Linked DNA regions of Homo sapiens: region 1 is linked to region 2. The links come from fine-mapping of genetic effects on gene expression. A gene starts in region 2. The other region holds a variant in brackets. All regions are shown on one strand. Distances are from middle to middle.

Region 1 (9,696 bases), 100 kb after region 2:
CTTATGAATGGAGTGAATGAATAAATGAATGAAAGAGCCATTCAAAAGAGTCCACATGTTCAAAAGATTAAGAGGTACTCGTCACCAGGTGTGGTAGCTCATGCCTGTAATCCCAGCATTTTGAGAGGCCGAGATGGGAGCATCGCTTGAGCCCAGGAGTTCGAGACCAACCTTGGCAACACAGTGAGACCCCTTCTCTACTAACAAACTTAAAAAATTAGCTGGGCATGGGGGCACACACCTGTAGTCTCAGCTACTTAGGGGGCTGAGGTGGGAGGAACACTTGAGCTGAGGAGTTCGAGGCTATCGTGAGCTATGGTCGTACTACTGCACCCCAGCCTGGGCAATAGAGCAGGACCCTGTTTCTAAAAAACAAACAGCCACTTGTCTAGGGAGATGAACTGAGAGGTCTAAAACACTCAGACAGTGTCTCTCTCTGTCTGTCTCCTCTTTCCTCCTTCAGCCCTTCTCCTGGCTCTTTGACTCAAGGAGACCCTTGGATCACAGTGTGCCCGGGGAAGTGCTGACACTACAATCACTCAAACACAGTGGTTTTCAAATATCTGTCAGAGAACACTGTAAGCCATGAAATCATCTGAGTGGGGATTGATCAGCATTAAAAGTTTTTAAATAGAGTAGACTGGATCAAAGTATATCACACACAGGTTAAGAATTATTTTGGAAACCACTGCTTCACCTTTTTTTTTTTTTTTTTGAGATGGAATCTCGCTCTGTTGCCAGGCTGGAGTGCAGTGGCATGATCTTGGCTCACTGCAACCTCTGCCTCCCAGATTCAAGCGATTCTCCTGCCTCAGCCTCCCGAGTATCTGGGACTACAGGTGCCCACCACCACGCCCAGCTAATTTTTGTATTTTCAGTAGAGATGGGGTTTCACCATGTTGGCCAGGACGGTCTCGAGCTCTTGACCTTGTGATCCGCTTGCCTTGGCCTCCCAAAGTGCTGGGATTACAGGCGTGAGCCACTGCTCAAAGCCACCTTTTTTTTTTTTTAACATAGATATTTCTGTATAGATGGACACAATTCTACTGTGGACTGTGGTCAGAAGTCTGAGTTGGCTGCCTGAGTGTGGGTGTCCTGTGTGGAGAGAGGCTGGGGTTTGAGGACTGGAAAAGGCTTTAGGGCGCCACAGGAGAGGAAGATCCCTGCGCCAACCAGGTTCTGAGCCCTGATGGCTATCGGGGACTCAGGCTAGCCCACCCCAGGCATGGTCAGGAAGGGATGTGGGGCTGTGGACTCAGGGGCTGGCACTGGACACTACAGCACAGCAAGCCCTGCTGGGGTCACAGAACCCTAAGGGGGTCCAAGGATGAGGCTGAGCTCTGTGTCTGTGTAGAATACTCTTTCCATCTCTGTGCCCTTTTCTGGAAGGTGGCTCATTGCCTCCATCCGAACGTCAGTGTGTGTGGTCGGGACTCTAGGCTGCTGGCTCGCCAATTCCTGCTTTTCTTTTCTTTTCTTTTTTTTTTTTTTGAGACAGAGTCTTGCTCTGTCGCCTGGGTGGAGTGCAGTGGCACGATCTCGGCTCACTGCAACCTCTGCCTCCTGGGTTCAAGCGATTCTCCTGCCTCAGCCTCCCAAGTAGCTGGGACTACAGGCGCCCACTACCATGCCTGGCTAATTTTTTTTTGTATTTAAGTAGAGACGGGGTTTCACCATGTTGGCCAGGACAGTCTGGATCTCCTGACCTCATGATCCACCCGCCTTGGCCTCCCAAAGTGCTGGGATTACAGGTATGAGCCACCGTTTCCAGCCAATGCCTACTCTTTCTCTCTTACTCCCGTCTGCCTCTCTACCAGTGGCTCTCAAAGTGTGGTCCTGGGACCAGCAGCATCAGCATTTACTGAGAACTTAATGCATATTCTCAGCCGGGCATGGTGGCTCACACCTGTGATCCCAGCAATTTGGGAGGCTGAGGTGGGAGGATCCCTTTAGGTCAGGAGTTTGAGACCAGCCTGGCCGACATGGTGAAACCCTGTCTCTACTAAAAATACAAAAATTAGTTGGGCATGGTGGTGGGCACCTGTAATCTCAGCTACTCGGGAGGCCGAGGCAGGAGAATCACTTGAACCTGGGAGGTAGAGGGTGCAGTGAGCCTGAGACCGCACCACTGCACTCCGGCCTGGTGAATAGAACGAAACTCCGTCTAAAAAACAAACAAAAAAACACCAATGCACGTTCTCAGGTCTCCCGCTCCGACCTATTGAATCAGAAACTCTGGGTGGGGGCCAGCAGCTGGGCTGAACAAGCCTTTGAGGGCTTCTGTGGGGACCATCGCCGTATACGGTAGAGCCTGGAAGACCAAACTACAACTTTCCAGACCTCCTTGTAGCTGGGATGGCCCCGTGATGCCAGCTGCTGAAAGGGGTTCTGGGAAAGTGTTTGCTTTCTCCATAGGAAGGGAAAGGTGCTCAGAGGCTTCCAACTTTCCCCTCTTCTCTGTCCCCAACTGCCACTCACCAGGCAGCACAGCTCCATCTCAAGGCAAGTGAGACATGAGCCAGCATGGTAAAGATGCCGAGCAGGGAGACACAGAGTGCCAATCCTTGAGGCTCTCCACAAGCCACAGCACTAGCCTGGCTCTGCCTTCTCTGGACTTCATGTTAGGGGACTGTTTGTTACACCTCTATTTGTTTAAGCCACAGAGGGTCAGGTTTCCTATTGCCTCCAGCCAAATACACTCTATCAGATACAGTCTGTGACCCTTTAGAAAGCATAAAAACTTTTGGTATCAGCAGAGAGCAAAGAAAAAAGAGACAGAGGGTCAGAGAGAACCAGAGACAGATGAAAACAGAGACAGAAGGCCAGGGGTTTCTTTCCCTCCACCTGGGGTCCCTGAATGCTGATGGATGGGCAATAAGGCAGAGATCCACGAGCTCCTCAATTCTGTCAGCAAACCAATGACTAGGCGCATTCATCCGTGAGTGTGTTTCTGGGGAGGAGAACCCCACCATCAGGACCGTAAAAGTAGAACTGGCGAAGTGGAAGGTGGTTAGAACCCAGACTAGGTGCAACAGCTTACCTGGGCTGCCTCGGTGGGTCTCGGCTGCCCCCCGCCAGTCCCGTGGGGGTGCTGGAGCCGGAGGAGTACAGCTTCGGTCGGTAGCCCTTGCTTTGGCCGGCAACTGCGGGGGCAGGGGAGACCTCCCGCCGCCTGTCTGCGTGGTGGGACCTCCCAGCGGCCTCGCGACCCCCGCCACAAAGGCCCATACTTCCAGGGGGCTTGTGTGGCTTGGCGGGCCGTGGAGCCTTGGCCAGGGACATGCAGCTAGGGCTGGAGGTGTAGAGGGTGGTGTCGATGCCGCTGTCACTAGAGCCACCCTTGGAGAGGGGGTCTTGCTCTGGCTCCAGGGGGTCCAGGGGGTCGAACCAGCGGTCGTCGCTGTGGCTGCTGGATGCGTTGCTGGAGAGGGTGTTGCTGCTGGAATGACTTGAGTATTGAGGTTCTCCCTGAGAGGCAAGAGAAGCGTGTCATTCCCAGACTCCAGGGCAGGGGCGCATCTTCCCTTGCCGGGTCCTCCCTCTGCCTGGGCCTGAACCCTGGGACCAGACAGCTTCAAATCCTGGCTTCTCATCTACTGGCCGTGTTACCTTGGGCAAGTGATTTACCTTCCCTCAGCCTCAGTTTCCACATCTGTAAAATGGAGGGTGATAGTAAGCCTGCCTCATGGGGCTGCTCAGAGGAACAAATGACATCAGGCACAGAACATGCTTCCCACATCTCAGACTCAGCGAATCTAAGACTGAGTTCGGCAGCGTCTTCCTCATCTCAATGACGCCGGCCATGCTTTCAGCTGCCCCTGCCAAGAGCCGTGGACTCACCTTGACCCCGCTTTTGCTCTCACTCATGTCCAGCCCACTAGCAAACCCTGCTGCCCGCGTCCTCAACACAGATCCGGGACCTGTCACTTCCTGCTCCACGGCTCCGCGTGGTCCTGTCCATGCCTGTCCTGTCCTCCCCCTGGGGCCAGTGCAGCAGCCTCCTCCCTGGTCTCTCTGCACCCTCATCCCCCTGTTTATTCCCCACACGCAGCCAGCAGAAGGCTGAGAACACCTGAGTTAGATGATGACCCCCACCTGTGGCTCCATCTTACTCCAGGCACAAGTGAGAGTTCCCAGCATGGCCCATGGGGCTTTGATGCTTGGGTCCCGGTCTCCAACTTCATCTCCCCTCCCTCCCGATCACGTTGCTGTGGCCATGGTGGCCCCCTTGCTATTCTCGGAACATACTGGGCACTCCCCGTCAGGGCCTCTGCGCCTGCTGCTCCCTCTGCCTGCAATACTCTTCCCTGAGAGATCTTCGTGGGCCTCCCCCTTCCTTCACTCAAGGTTTCCGCTCAAAGGTCACCCCCTCAAAGGCCCTCTCTGACCACATCATCCTTGAGCTGCAGTGCTTGTCACTCTCTCCCCTGGACTGTTTTTTTTTTTTTTTTTTTTTTGAGATAGAGTCTCACTCTGTCGCTCAGGCTGGAGTGCAGTGGTGCAATCTTGGCTTACTGCAGCCTCTGCCTCCTGGGTTCAAGCAATTCTTGTGCCTCAGCCTCCCAAGGAGCTGGGATTATAGGTTCCTGCCACCACGCCTGGCTAATTTTTGTATTTTTAGTAGAGACGGGGTTTTACTAGGTTGCCCAGGCTGGTCTCGAACTCCTGACTGCAGGTGATCCGTCCGCCTTGGCCTCCTAAAGCACTGGGATTATAGGCGTGAGCCACCGCGCCCAGCCCGCACTTTTTCTTATACAACAGATCTGTTTATCTGCTTACTGCTTGCTGCCCCAAATGGGAAGTCAGCTTCCTGAGGACAGGGCTGGTCTGTCCTCTTCATCATCATGGTCCCAATGCCTGGAGTGTTGTAAGCGCTTGTCAAACACCCACTGAACGAATGGATACAAAGAGATTGCCAAGAGCCCCTGCAAACCATCTCCTCCTCCTGGACACACAGGACTACATCCCCAGCCTTCCTGGGCCATGCAAG[A/T]CTACATTTCCCAGCCTCCCTTGCAGCTAGGTGTGGCCACGTGATGGAATGGAAGCGATTCATGCCATTTCCAGGCCTGGGCTAAAAAACACCTCCCATGTGATCTTTTCTCCCACTCACCTCCACTGCTGGAAAGACGCAGGGACCCAGCAGAGGGCTTGGAACCTCTGAGGGACAGCAGAGCCACAAGAGGGAGGGAGCCTGGGCTCTGAATCACCACGTGAATGGCGGGTAGATGCTCACTGAATACCTGCACTGCGCTGTTACAGGAGAGGGAAATCCACTTCCACTGTATGAAGTCACTGAGATTCGGGGCTGTCTGTTACAGCAGCTGATTTACCATGACTGATGGAACAATGAGGAAACTGCGGCTCGAGGAGGTAAAGGGATTTGCCCTAGATGACCTGGCTGATGAGGGCTGGAGCCAGAATGTGAACCTGGTTGGTTCCAACTCAGACCAAGTATTCAACCCCTCTGCTGAGTGGAAGGTGGCAGAGGTTGAGGATGTGCTCAAGTGTGAAGCTCAGAGGCCACACCCAGGCAGGCCTGGCTCCCCCGGTAGGGCAGGGTGGGGCCCAGACTCACTTTGGAATGCCTGTTGGGGGAATCTTTGCCTGCTGCATCCTGCCTGGACGGGTGCTTGTTCCCGCTGCTTCCGGCTATGGCTGAGAGCCTGGCCTGGGCAGGCACATGCCACAAAGGCTCTGTAGGAAAACAGGAGACACACCAGTGGTTAGGAGTGACTCAGGCCAGGGCCTGAAGAATCTGGACCCTTTGCCAGACTGTCTGCTCACCCACGGCATGACCCCATCAATTTACACCTTGGAGTGCAACACTCAGTAACAGAGAATACATCTCAGCACATACTATGTGCCAGACACCGTTCTGAGGGCCTCACTGAAGCCGTGCAATATCCCATTTCCCTCTCTCCCTGTCACCCAGGCTAAAGTGCAATGGAATGATCATAGCTCACTGTAACCTTGAACTCCTGGGTTGAAGCCATCCTCCCGCCTCAGCCTCCCAAGTAGCTAGGACTACAGGTGTGCATCACCATGCTTGGCTAATTTTTTTTTTTTTTTTGAGGTCTTGCTACAGCATCCAGGGTGGTCTTGAACTCCTGGCCTCAAGTGATCCTCCTGCCTCAGCTTCCCAAAGTGCTGGGATGATAGGCGTGAGCCACCATGCCTAGCCTCCTTTACCCATTTATCTATGAGCTTGACTGTCTTTTTTGAGATGGGGTCTCGCTCTGTCGCTCAGGCTGGAGTGCAGTGGTATGATCTCAGCTCACTGCACCCTCCACTGCCCAGGGTTCAAGTGATTCTCCTGTCTCAGCCTCTCAAGCAGCTGGGATTACAGGTGTGGCACCACCATGCCCAGCTAATTGTTTTGTATTTTTAGTGGAGACAGGGTTTCACCATATTGGCCAGGCTGGTCTCGAACTCCTGACCTCGTGATCCACCTGCCTCGGCCTCCCAAAGTGCTGGGATTACAGGTGTGAGCTACCGCACCCGGCCCAAACTATCTTTTATCTTATTGGTTAGTAGAGTTCTTTACATATGCAAGGTAGCAATCCTTTGTTGGTTGTATGTACATAGTTTTTTTTTTTTTTTTTTTTTGAGACGGAGTCTTGCTCTGTCACCCAGGCTAGAGCGCAGTGGTGTGATCTCAGCTCACTGCAACCTCTGCCTCCCAGGTCAAGTGATTCTCCTGCCTCAGCCTCCTGAGTAGCTGGGATTACAGGCACTGGCCACCACGCCCGGCTAATTTTTGTATTTTTAGTAGAGACGGGGTTTCACCATCTTGGCCAGGCTGGTCTCGAACTCCTGACCTCGTGATCCACCCATCTCAGCCTCCCAAAGTGCTGGGATTACAGATGTGAGCCACCGTGCCCGGCCCACAACTTTTTTAAAAAACAAAAATGGAATAATAATAAACACTGTCCTACAACTTAATTTTTCACTTTGTAATATGTCTATACTTGCTTTTCTCTTTATATCTTCACCATAGGTCTTCACATAATTGAATGTGATGTTACCCTAATAGTATTGCACTAAGTGAATGTACATCAATGACCTGCCAGTTTCCTACTGATGGATATTTAGGTTATCTTGAACAGTCTTCCCTCTACAGTGGCCTTCCCTCTACATGCGACTTTGAGCAAGCGTGGGATTGTGTGTGGGACAGAGAGTGCTACTGGTGGAATTGCTGGTCCAAAGGTGAAGCGGGTTTAAGAGTAGTGGCTGCTGTGGATGTCAGGCCTGGTGCGGTGGCTCACGCCTGTAATCCCAGCACTTTGGGAGGCCGAGGCGGGCAGAGCACGAGGTCAAGAGTTGAGACCATCCTGTCCAACATGGTGAAACCCCGTCTCTACTAAAAAAAATACAAAAAATAGCTGGGTGTGGTGGTGCACGCCTGTAGTCCCAGCTACTTGGGAGGCTGAGGCAGAAGAATCGCTTGGACCTGGGAGGAGGAGGCTGCAGTGAGCCGAGATCGCACCCCTGCACTCCAGCCTGGAGACTAAGCGAGACTCCGTCTCAAAAAAAAAAAAAAGAGTAGCAGCTGCTCTGGATGTCAACTGGTTTAACCTCTCCAGCCTAGTCAGTATGCCTGGACCAAGTATCTTGCTGACCTTAAAAAAAAATTGGCCAGGTGCGGTGGCTCATGCCTGTAATCCCAGCACTTTGGGAGGCCAAGATGGGGGGATCATTTGAGGTCAGGAGTTCAGGACCAGCCTGACCAACATGGTGAAACCCTGTCTCTCCTAAAAATACAAAAAAATTAGCTGGGTGTGATGGCACATGCCTGTAGTCCCAGCTACTCGGGAGGCTGAGGTAGGAGAATTGCTTGAACCTGGGAGGTGGAGGCTGCAGTGAGCCGAGATCGCGCCATTACACTCCATCCTGGGCAACAGAGCAATACTCCGTCTCAAAAAAATAAATAAAAAATAAAATAAATAAAGACATACATAAAAAGTGACCAACCCCAGTGGAGGGCATTTAGATATTATCTATGGAAATTACAAATGCACTAACTGAGGAGCTGAACGCCGGTGATTTAACCCCAAAGCTGACTTTTGATCACTATGGTATTCAAGATCATTAACATAATGATAATTCCCATTAAGCGTGTGTTCTGTGTCAGGCGCTATGGTAAGCACTCTGCATACATTACCCTGCTGCGTCCTCCCAGTACCACTGTGAAGTGGGTATCAGGAGCATCTCCGATAGATGTGGAACAAGACTCGGAGAGGTTAAGCAGCTGGTCCAAGGTCGCACAGTGGGAAAGGGCCAGGCAGGACGTGTGGCTCGGATTGGCCTAGTTTAGCACCTGTGCTGTCAAGCCCTGCCTCCTCCCTTGGCTTCACCAACAACGGCAATGCTGGCAGTGGTGGAGAGTGAGTGCCCGATGGGCAGGAGCTCTTGTTCTCCTAATGATGGGCCGTGGGCTTGGCCGGCATTATCTCACTGGACCCCCCACAAACTGCCCTGGAAGGAGAGACACCTAGGATGTCCACTACAGGAGTGGGACCTGAGGCTGAGGGGGAGGAGGTCACTGCTGAGGCCACACACCAAGCATACGCCCAACTCAGAACTGCCCACCAGGCCTGTGGGACCCCGAGCTTGCAATCACACTGCCACCTCCGGTGCAAGCCCAGGGTACTCTTGGGCCCATGTTCCTGCTGGGGAAGGTGGCCCGGGTGACCAGGCAGGGCACTCAGGGCCACTGCAGAGAATGGCCTGGCTGGATGTGGTCTAGTCTCAGTTGAGGGTGTCACCGCGTGTGTGGCTTTCACTGGGGAACCATGGATGCGAGAAAGTGGGGAGGCTGGCCTCTTTGTCCACCTGCTCTGCCTCCATTGATGGTTTTCCTCTTTGGGGCATTTTTATACACCCAGAAGGTGCTGGCTCCCCGGGAGGTGGGCAGTCACTCTGGGAGACCACATTTCTACAGAGCGAAGCCCATGGCAGTCACATCCGGCCTCAAAAACCACAGACAACGGACAACTCCAGTGCTCTACCTCTGGGCTGACCTCTGCCCCTGACTTGACACTTGAACTCGGCTGCCCTGCAGCACCTCCACTTGGGTATCTATCAGGCACCTCTCACTGAACATGGCCAAGGCCAAGCCAAGGGCTGTACCTTCCCCCAAACCTGCATCTCCCACAGTTTTCCTGCTCAGTTCATGGCTTCTCCTTTCAGCTGCTGTGGCCAAACCCCCTGTGGCATCCTTGACTTCTCTCATGCCCACAACTAGGCATCATCAAGAAATTTGGTTAACGCTGCCTTTAAAATACTATATCCAGAATCGTGCATCTCCGCCTACCTCTGTCCCCACCTGGTCCTGCTCCCACCCCACCTGACAGTAATCTGTAGCCAGGGGCTCCTGGGAACACCCGAGTCAGATCCTGCCCCTCCTCTGCACAGAAGACTGAGACCTGCGGCTCCTGTCCCACTCTCAGTACAGGACAACCGCCTCCCCGTGGCCCAAGAGGCTCCACATACTCTGCCCGTCCCCTCCCTGATCTCAGTTCTCACCACATGGGCCTCATCGCCACCACCTCAGGGTCTCCAACTAGCTGTTCACTTTCCCTGGAATGTTCTCATCCCCACTGACTTCTTTGCATTATTCCAACCTCACCTGAAATGTGATTTGCTCAGAGATGCCCCCCAAACCCTGTAAATCTCCTTCTGCACACTGTGACAGTT
Region 2 (9,696 bases):
GGGCAGGAAAACAGGCCTGTGTTCTGGTTTGGTTCCATTACATCTTCATGTCTTTCAGGCAAAGCCAAAAACTACATTTTTACGTTTAAAAAATCCCAATTCTGGAAAAAGTACAAGTCACATAAAGGCTGTGTGAAGCTTCCTGGGAGTGGACAGTTTATAATCTCTGCGTGCTTTCCACTCCAGACGGTAACTGTCCCTAACGCTAGATAGGGGAGCTTTCTCACCTGGCATAAGCTCAGCTTTCCCCCCACCTCTGTCTGCAGAGGTTGGAGTCAGGACACTCTTTGTCCGGCCCGTCCACCTGTCCCTTCCCACCTGCCCTCACTACTCAGAGCGTCACCAACACATCAATCATAGACCACATGATGCTTCTCACAAGAAGCCCCGACCCCTGAGTTAACCCTCACTCTCACACGGTGGGGCCTGCTTTGTCCCCATCTCCCCTCCCCCAACTCCTGGGCCCTCTGGTACTCAGGACTGGTCTTGAGCAAATCTTCCATGTCCTCAATCTCCTCTGAACATTGTTGCCACCCTCTTACCTAATTGGAATCTCCCCTGAGGGCACACCTCCTGGGGCCCTTCCAAGTGGGGAGGTCTCCTTGCTCCTGGGAGCTGCTTCTGGACTGTTCTCCCTCCACCCTCCCCAAAATCCCCAGCTGGGAGACTTCCATTATTAGAGTAAATCATTCACTACCCCGCCTGGCACGTTATCTGCCAACCCAGACAACTACTTCTTCCTTCCCAACTTTAGCTCCGGGCCTGCCACCTCTCCCGCTGCTCTTATGATCATTCTTGGAGATTTCTATATCCAGGTAGATGGTCCTCTGACCTCTAGGTCCCAAGACCTCCACCTGATCTCCTCCCACCCTCGCCCCCCCGCTTCCTCTCAGGGTCACACCTAGACCTGTCTCAGTAACTGCCACCTCTTCAGAACCTCCCTCTCATGCATCTCACTCACTACCCACTGCATCCTATCTGTCTGGTTCATTCCCTTCAGAACCTCAACTCCAACAATCTGCTGGCCCTACCATCTACCTCGGCCCTCCGCCCCCTCATGTTTTCATACAGAATAAATTCCTTGACCAACCCCCATCCTCCCTCCCTCACACATTCTCTGTTCACTCCTCCCTCACCACCACACTCATCCAGCAGCACCTGAGCCACTGCATGGAGCTTCAGCAACACCACACTCCCAGTGGATGACTCGCTTCCGGAGAAAACAGAAGCAATCAGGAAGGAGCGAGGAAAAAAAAGTCAAAACTGCCTTCTGCCTCCGATTAAGCTGTTCAAGCTTTCAAACAAACAGAACTTACGATGAGTGAGGGCATGAGTTCACCCAGTCAGACACTAGTACTTCTGAAAGGTCAGTAGGTCCAGTCGGCAGCAGCAGTCAGGTAGGCCACTCTGAACAGAGAAGGCCTCTGCAGTGAGACCTGGCTTTGTCAATTACTACTACCGAGTGACCTCGGGCAAGGCAAGTAACTTCACCACCGCACCCGGCTGTTTCAAAGGTTAAATGGCACATCCCAGCTCAGAGTAAGCACCAGAGGTAGCAAGAGGCCATGTCCCAGCTCAGAGTAAGCACCAGAGGTAGCAAGAGGCCAGGTAACTGGGAGGTACATCCTAACGTAATTACTTAAACTGAAAAAGTCCAGCAGAGCTGCCAAATTCTGGTTCGAATTGCAAGAATGATCAACGTCTGCATTCCTGACTCCCAGTCACCTACAGCTGAGCCTCTCCCCACCAATTCACTTTTTTCTCCTGCCTAGGGCACAGAGAAATTAACCAGTCCCCAGAAGTTACCACAGGTGATGACTTGGTACACACCTAGCCTGCTCTTTTTTTTTTTTTTGAGACTGAGTCTTGCTGTGTCGCCCAGGCTGCTGTGCAGTGGCTTGATCTCAGCTCACTACAGCCTCCGCCTCTGGGCTTCAAGCGATTCTCCTGCCTCAGCCTCCCGAGTAGCCGGGACTACAGGTGTGCACCACCATGCCCAGCTAATTTTTGTATTTTTGGTAGAGACGGGGTTTCATCATGTTGCCTAGGGTGGTGTTGAACTCCTGGCCTCCAGTGATCTGCCCGCCTTGGCCTCCCAAAGTTCTAGGATTACAGGCATGAGCCACATCACCCGGCCTTCTTTTTTTTTTTTTGAGATGGGAGTTTCACTCTTGTTGCCCAAGCTGGAATGCAGTGGCGCGATCTTGGCTCACTGCAACATCCGCCTCCCGGGTTCAAGCACCAGCACCTGTCTATAAAGCCCTAGGCCATCTGGCTGCAGCCAACCTCTCCCACCTCCCATCCTCCTCCAGTCCTCCCCTCCTTCACGCCTGCTCCAGCCAGGCTGGCTCTGTCTTTTCCCTGAACCCAACCAAGCTTGTTCCAGCTTCAAGGCCTTTGTACTCTATTGCCTGCAACTGGACACTGGTCCCCCAGGTCTCCGTGTGGCTACTGCCTCATTCTTCATGTTAGAGCTCAGATGTCACCCTCCTCACGGAGACGTCCCCCGACCACCTGAGCTAAAGCCGCCCCCAACATCTTACGTCACCCTGTTGGTGTACTTCACCTGGTTCATTTAATTCTCAGTAACTTAATCTCATGGCAAGTGCTTTTTAAACCTTCACTAGCTCTGCCTCTCCCACTGGAATATTAGCTCTGTGAATGCAGGAACCCAGCTAGTCTGAGTTAACTGTTATAACCAGCGCCAGTGCCTGACACGTAGCAGGGCCTCAGTAAGTTTTGCTGAATCAATGAATTCTTGCTTTCAAGAGAGCTCTTTTCAAAACACGCTGGTGCTTGTCTGAAGCAGTTAAGGTTATAACAACACTTGTTCAAAGAGACCTTTCAGACCACACTTCCTTAAGAGTGTAGAAGTTTAAATCACCTTATTCACCACCGACTTCTAAGGGCCAATCCAAAGACCCCAACACCAGCTGCTCAACGCCAATACTCTCTCGAGCCTTAGCAGAGCTTCCTCTTCCCCAAAGCTTGTTTCCTTTCTTGCTCCCTCCTTCTCGGGCACCTACTTTACTGCAACTCAACTACAAAAACTTCAGGGGAGGCTCTTGTCCAATCTCCAAAGAGGCAGGGGTGAGATGGGCTTCTTCCGAGTCTAAAACGGCCACCAGGTCACCCAACCCAACCCCCACCATCTCACAGGCCTGGCCTCTCCCTGAGCTTTGGCCATGGAACTTTCCACCGCCAGGAGAAGGCTGGTCTTCAATTCGGCTCCTCACCCCGTTCTTGCCACAGGAAGGGGCAGTGCCACGCCTTCTTGGTCAATACCCCTTGACTCTTCCTCCACCCGAAGGAAACTCTCCTAACCCTCGCTCCTCCGCCCGTCTTCGCTGTCGAAGGCTCCCAAACCTCATTTCAAGGCTCAATCCTCCAGGGCTGGTTCCACCACACCCGCTGAACGCCATCAAGTAGCCCCCAGTTTCCTCCCCCGCCAGTTCTCCCTGCTCAGACCCCCGTTGACCCCCGAGCCTCTGCCCCCTGCGCCCCGCCTCCAGCCTACCCGCCCGGCCCTCACCGTGGATGCTGCGTTCTCGGTCGGCCGCCAGGACCCCAGAGAGGAGCAGCGATCCCAGCAGGGCGAGAAACGCCCGGCTCCGCCTCAGCCCGCACAGCTGCGCCATGGCCAGCTCAGCCGAGACGCGCAGGCGACGCCACCAGCCGTTGGGGTCTCGCGATCAGGTGCGGGAAGCCCCTCAACGCGCACGCGCAATGGAGCGCCTCGCGTTCAGGTGCCGACGCTCCGGGAGGGTCCGCCAGGTGCCAAAGCCCCCGGAAGTCGCCTTTCCGGACCTTCAGTGTGGGGACGCCCGGCCTTCTCGGCGCGCGATGCCTGGGTCTGCTCCTCACTCGCGCCCTCGCCGCCTGCGACACTCAACGGCCCTCAGCGCGTTCAGAGCCGCGCTACACCTCCCAACGCGCGGAGGTCGCCAGAGCCAATGGCGAACGCCTATTGGAAGCGGCTCCCGAAGGTGGCCGGGCAGGCAGGGGGCGGGGCGCACCTGGCTAGGCAGGGCGAGCTGGGCGCAGGCGCAAAGGGCAGGCACCTGCGCGGCCGCTCCCCGGCCCTGGGCGCACCTGGGCCCGCCCCTGGTGCCGGGGAAGAGGCGGGGCTTGCGCGGGCCTCGCCCCCAACAGAACCTGGCGGGGCGGGGCGGGGCGTCTGCCCGCTGAGCACCTGCCACCCTTCCCTTGGGCTTGGTGACGACGTCGGAGGAGGGCCTTCGCTCTAGGACTGGCCTCAGGGTGGGAGGAGGGGGCGGCAGACACGCGTTTCTTGGAAGCCTGTGGTTTTCTGCCCGCCTCGCCGCAGCTTTCCTGTGAATTCCTTCCTGAATTTCAAAGTTCACTGGGCTCATGCTCCAGGGCTTAATGCTGGGGACCCAGCGGTGGCCATGCCAGACTGGTCCCTGAGTCACCAAACAGGAACGGCCCAGAGTAGTGATAGCGGAAGCTTAGCACAAAGTGATGAAAGCTGTGATGGGGAAGGCCAAGCTTAGGGATCAGAGGCTGGGTCGCTAGAAAACCAGGGCATGATGGGAGCCCAGACAGCTTTCCCATCCAGCCTGAGAGAGGGCCAAGGAGGGCTTCCTGGAGGAGGTGATAGGCCCATGCAAAAACAGCCCCGAGCCCTGGCTCCAAGGTTCTCAGGACAGATATGGAGACAAATACTTAGCACAGGCAGCATCAGAATTGAGAGGAAGGAAGCCCCTGGGGAAACCCAGAGAAGACACCTGACCAAGCCTGGGAGTCAAAGAGGGCTTCCTGGAAGAGGAGTTACGTGAACAGACTCTAGAAAGGGGAATGGAGTGGGGCAGGCACACGAGTAGAGGATAGCCAACAAGGTAATCAACATAAATGCATTATTATTGAAAACACTTTTAGATTATTTCTTTTTTTTTTTTTTTTTGAGATGGAAGTTTTGCTCTTGTTGCCCAGGCTGGAGTGCAATGGAGTGATCTTGGCTCACTGCAGCCTTGACCTCCTGGGCTCAAGGGATCCTCCCACCTCAGCCTCCCAAGTAGCTGGGACTACAGATGTGAGCCACCACATCCAGCTAATTTTTAAATTTTTTGTGGAGACAGGGGACTTGCTATGTTGCCCAGGCTGGTCTCAAACTCCTGGCTTCAAGGGATCCTCCTGTCTCATCCTTCCAAAAGTGTTGTATTACAGGCGTGAACCACCACACCTGGCCTGAAAACACTTTGACAGTGCTATACAGAAAAGGAATCAGGGGCTGGGATGGAAAATAACAAGAGATCTTTTGAATGGGGTGGCGGAGGAAGGGCTTTGTGAGGGGTGGCTTTGATAATGAACTCTGAAGGATGATAAAGGCCAAGGGACAAACATTCCAAGAATCAGGAATGGCACATGCGGAGGCCTTCAGGCAGGAAAGAGAATAGTGTGTTCAGGAGCCAGGGCCACTCCCACTCTTCAGCCTCCCTCCTAGCATAATAATACATGAAAAGCCGTAACTGAGTTATCAAAATGGTATTTACCTTAAACAATGGAAGTCTAACCTTGCAATGAGATCATGGGACTCAAGGTGGAATCTGAATGTGAGGCCAAAGGTCTCCCCCAGCACTTGAATCTCCCACTGCCACTCAGGCCTACTAAACCTAGGCTTGAGCATGAAAACAGAGAAGTATGTGCTGAGCCGTCAAGGCTTGGAAGAAGGTATAGGCCTCTTCTTTCTTTATTTTATTTTATTTTGAGACAGAGTTTCACCTGTTGCCCAGGCTGGAGTGCAATGCTGTGATCTCAGCTCACTGCAACCTCCACCTCCTGGATTCAAGCAATTCTCCTGCCTCAGCCTCCTGAGTAGCTGGGATTACAGGCACCACCCGCCACCACGCCCAGCTAATTTTTGTATTTTTTGTAGAGATGGAGTTTCACCATGTTGGCCAGGCTGGTCTCGAACTTCTGACCTCACGATCCGCCCACCTTGACCTCCCAAAGTGCTGGGATTACAGGCGTGAGCCACTGCATCTGTCCAGTTTTGAACTTTAAACACAAAAACTCAAAAGGAGGGCTGAGCGCAGTGGCTCATGCCTGTAATCCCAGCACTTTGGGAGGCCAAGGCGGGTGGATCACGAGGTCAGCAGATCAAGACCATCTTGGCTAACACGGTGAAAAAATCAAAAAGATTAGCCGGGCGTGGTGGCGGGAGCATGTAGTCCCAGCTACTCGGGAGGCTGAGGCAGGAGAATCTCTTGAACCCGGCAGGCGGGGTTTGCAGTGAGCCAATATTGTGCCACTGTACTCCAGCCTGAGCAACAGCGCGAGAGTCGTTCTCAAAAAAAAAAAAAAAAAAAAGAGGCCGGGCTCACACGCCTGTAATCCCCAGCACTTTGGGAGGCCTGGGCATCTCCATATCTGTCCTGAGAAACATTCCAAGCATCAACATTCCTGATGCTTGGAATGTTTGTCCCTTGGCCTTTATCATCCTTCAGAGTTCATTAAAAAGAGGTGGCTCACGCCTGTAATCCCCAGCACTTTGGGAGGCCGAGGTGGGCGGATCACGAGGTCAGGAATTTGAGACCAGCCTGGCCAACATAGTGAAACCCTGTCTCTACTAGAAATACAAAAATTAGCCGGGCGTGGTGGCGCGCGCCTGTAGTCCCAGCCACTGGAGAGGCTGAGGCAGGAGAATCGCTTGAACCCGGGAGGTGGAGGCTGCGGCGAGCCGAGATCGCCCCACTGCACACCAGCCCGGGCGACAGTGTGAGACTTCGTCTCAAAAAAAAAAAAAAAAAAAAGAAGGGCCGGGTGCGGTGGCTTATGCCTGTAATCTCAGCATTTTAGAAGGCTGAGGTGGGCGGATCACGAGGTCAGCAGATGGAGACCATCTGGGCTAACACGGTGAAACCCCGTCTCTACTGAAAAAAAGTACAAAAGACTAGCCGGGCGTGGTGGTGGGCGCATGTAGTCCCAGCTACTTGGGAGGCTGAGGCAGGAGAATCGCTTGAACCTGGGAGGTGGAGTTTGCAGTGAGCCGACATTGCGCCACTGCACTCCAGCCTGAGCGACGGCGCGAGACTCGTTCTCAAAAAAAAAAAAAAAAAAAAAAAAAAAGAGGCCGGGCGCGGTGGCGGGCGCCTGTAGTCCCAGCTACTCGGGAGGCTGAGGCAGGAGAATAGCTTGAATCCGGGAGGCGGAGGTTGCAGTGAGCTGAGACTGCACCACTGCCCTCCAGCCTGGGTGACAGAGCGAGACTCTGTCTCAAAAAAAAAAAAAAAAAAAAAAAAAAAAACACCAAAAAAAAAACCTTGACAGTAGGCCAGGCGTGGTTGGCTCACACCTGTAATCTCAGCACTTTGGGAGGCCGAGGCGAGCGGATCACCTGAGGTCGGGAGTTCAAGACCATCCTGACCAACATGGAGAAATCCTGTCTGCTAAAAATACAAAATTAGTCGGGCGTGGTGGCGGATGCCTGTAATCCGCGCTACTCAGGAGGCTGAGGCAGGAGAATCGCTTGAACCTGGGAGGTGGAGGTTGCAGTGAGCTGAGATAGTGCCATTGTACTCCAGCCTGGGCAACAAGAGCGAAACTCCGTCTCAAAAAATGAAACAAAAACAAAACAAAAAAAAAACCGACAGTAATTGCATCAATTGTTTTTTTCCCCCTTTTTTATATTGCATCAATTGTTTAGAAAGCAGACCACCAAAAGGTTTTTGTTTCTGTTTCTTCCCTGGGGAGGACTATTTTATCATTGACACTGTTTAGAAATGTCACTGCAAAGTAAAATAAAAATTAGACCAACTTTTGGTCAGTTTTTTTGAAATGGAGTCTCACTCTGTCTGTCGCCTAGGCTGCAGTGCAATGGCACGATCTTGGCTCATCGCAACCTCCACCTCCCGGGTTCAAGCGATTCTCCTGCCTCAGTCTCCCAAGTAGCTGGGATTACAGGCTTGTACCACCACACCCGGCTAATTTTTGTATTTTTATGGAGATGGGGTTTCACCATGTTGGCCAGGCAGGTCTTGAACTCCTGACCTCAGGTGATCTGCCTGCCTTGGCCTCCCAAAGTGCTGGGATTACAGGCATGAGCCACCATGCCCGGCCTTGGTCAGCTTTTTATTTTTAAATTCTCTACAGACAGTGCACCCTCTTTTTGCCTGTACCCAAAGTGGACCAGTCCTGTCCCCCTGCCTTTAGTATGCTACTAGTTGGGAAACAGACAATAATTTTTTTTTTCTGTCACTGCACAGAACAGAAAATATGACATTTTTCTTTTTGAGACAGGGTCTCACTCCATCACCCAGGCTGGAGTGCAGTGGTGCAATCACAGTTCACTGCGTCCTCCATCTCCTGGACTCAAGTGATCCTCCCAACTCAGCCTCCAGAGTAACTGGGACTACAAGCATGTACTATTGCACCTGGCTTTTTTTTTTTTTTTTTTTTTTTGTAGCGACAGGGTCTCACTATGTTGCCCAAGCTGATCTTGAACTCCTGGATGTAATTGCTCCTCCTGCCTCAGCATCCTATAGTGCTGAGATTACAGGTGTGAGCCACCACGCCTGGCATGGACAATACATTAAATGAGTACATTATATATAATGTTAGAGGCCAGGCATGGTGGCTCATGCCTGTAATTCCAGCACTTTGGGAGGTCAAGACGGGCAGATCGTCTGAGGTCAGGAGTTCGAGACCAGCCTGACCAACATGGTGAAACCCCATCTCTACTGAAAATATAAAAAGTAAGCGGACACAGTGGTGTATAACTGTAGTCCCAGCTACTCAGGAGGCTGAAGCAGGAGAATCTCTTGAACCCAGGAGGCAGAGGTTGCAGTGAGCCATGATCACAATACTATACTCCAGCCTGAGGTGACTCCAACTCAAAAAAAAAAAAAAAAAAAAAAAAAAAAAAAAAAAAATATATATATATATATATATATATATAATGTTAGAAAGTGGTAAGTGTTATGTATCAAACAGAGCTGGATGAGGGGCACGAGAGTTGCAGTGTGAAATAGCGTGGCCAGGGAAGACCTCACTGAACAGTGACATTGGAGGGAGGTGAAGGAGTGAGCCCTGATGATATTCTAGGGAAGAACCTTCCTGGCAGAGGGAACTGCGAGTGAAAGGTGCTGGTGCTGAAATGGGACTGTCCCTGGCAGAGATGGGACTGCTAAACCAGAGTTTGGCCTTTAGACTGAAGGTCATGGGTAGCTATGGATAGTTGTTTTTTATTTTTGTTTTTTTAGAGATGGGGTCTTTCTCTGTCGCCCAGGCTGGAGTGTGATGGCACGATCTCAGCTCACTGCAGCCTCCGCCTCCCAGGTTCAAGCAATTCTCCCACCTCAGCCTCCTGAGTAGCTGGGATTACAGGGGTGCACCACCATGCTTGGCTAATTTTTTTTGCATTTTTAGTAGAGACGGGTTCACCATGTTGGTCAGGCTGGTCTCAAACTCCTGACCTCAGATAATCCACTCACCTCAGCCTCCCAAAGTGCTGGGATTACAGACGTGAACCATGGCGCCTGGCCTGTTTTTAATTTTGAAATAAAACAGCTTTATTGAAGCCGGGCACGGTGGCTCACGCCTGTAATCCCAGCACTTTGGGAGGCCTAGGCAGGTGGATTACCTGAGGTCAGGAGTTCAAGACCAGCCTGGCCAACATGGTGAAACCCCGTTTCTACTAAAAATACAAAAATTAGCCAGGCGTGGTGGCACACCCCT

The links. PIP is the estimated chance that this variant, and not a neighbour inherited with it, causes the effect.
Region 1: its variant is the best candidate, but not a certain one, in a credible set for the expression of SPINT2 in whole blood (INTERVAL, PIP 0.68).

Annotation. Positions count from the first base shown.
Region 1 is chr19:38,158,251-38,167,946 of GRCh38, reverse strand. SIPA1L3 (signal induced proliferation associated 1 like 3) reads right to left here. Exons shown (of 22, transcript NM_015073.3): 14 at 5,576-5,694; 15 at 3,041-3,468. It overlaps SNORD152 (small nucleolar RNA, C/D box 152), which reads right to left and starts at 4,851; the gene lies at 4,798-4,851. RefSeq lists a silencer at 1,447-1,649. The variant A/T (reference allele first, on the strand shown) is at 4,991.
Region 2 is chr19:38,258,835-38,268,530 of GRCh38, reverse strand. SPINT2 (serine peptidase inhibitor, Kunitz type 2) reads right to left here and starts at 3,958. Exons shown (of 7, transcript NM_021102.4): 1 at 3,533-3,958. The coding sequence starts at 3,638. RefSeq lists a silencer at 3,934-4,253 and enhancers at 4,410-5,327, 5,468-6,404, 6,405-7,342.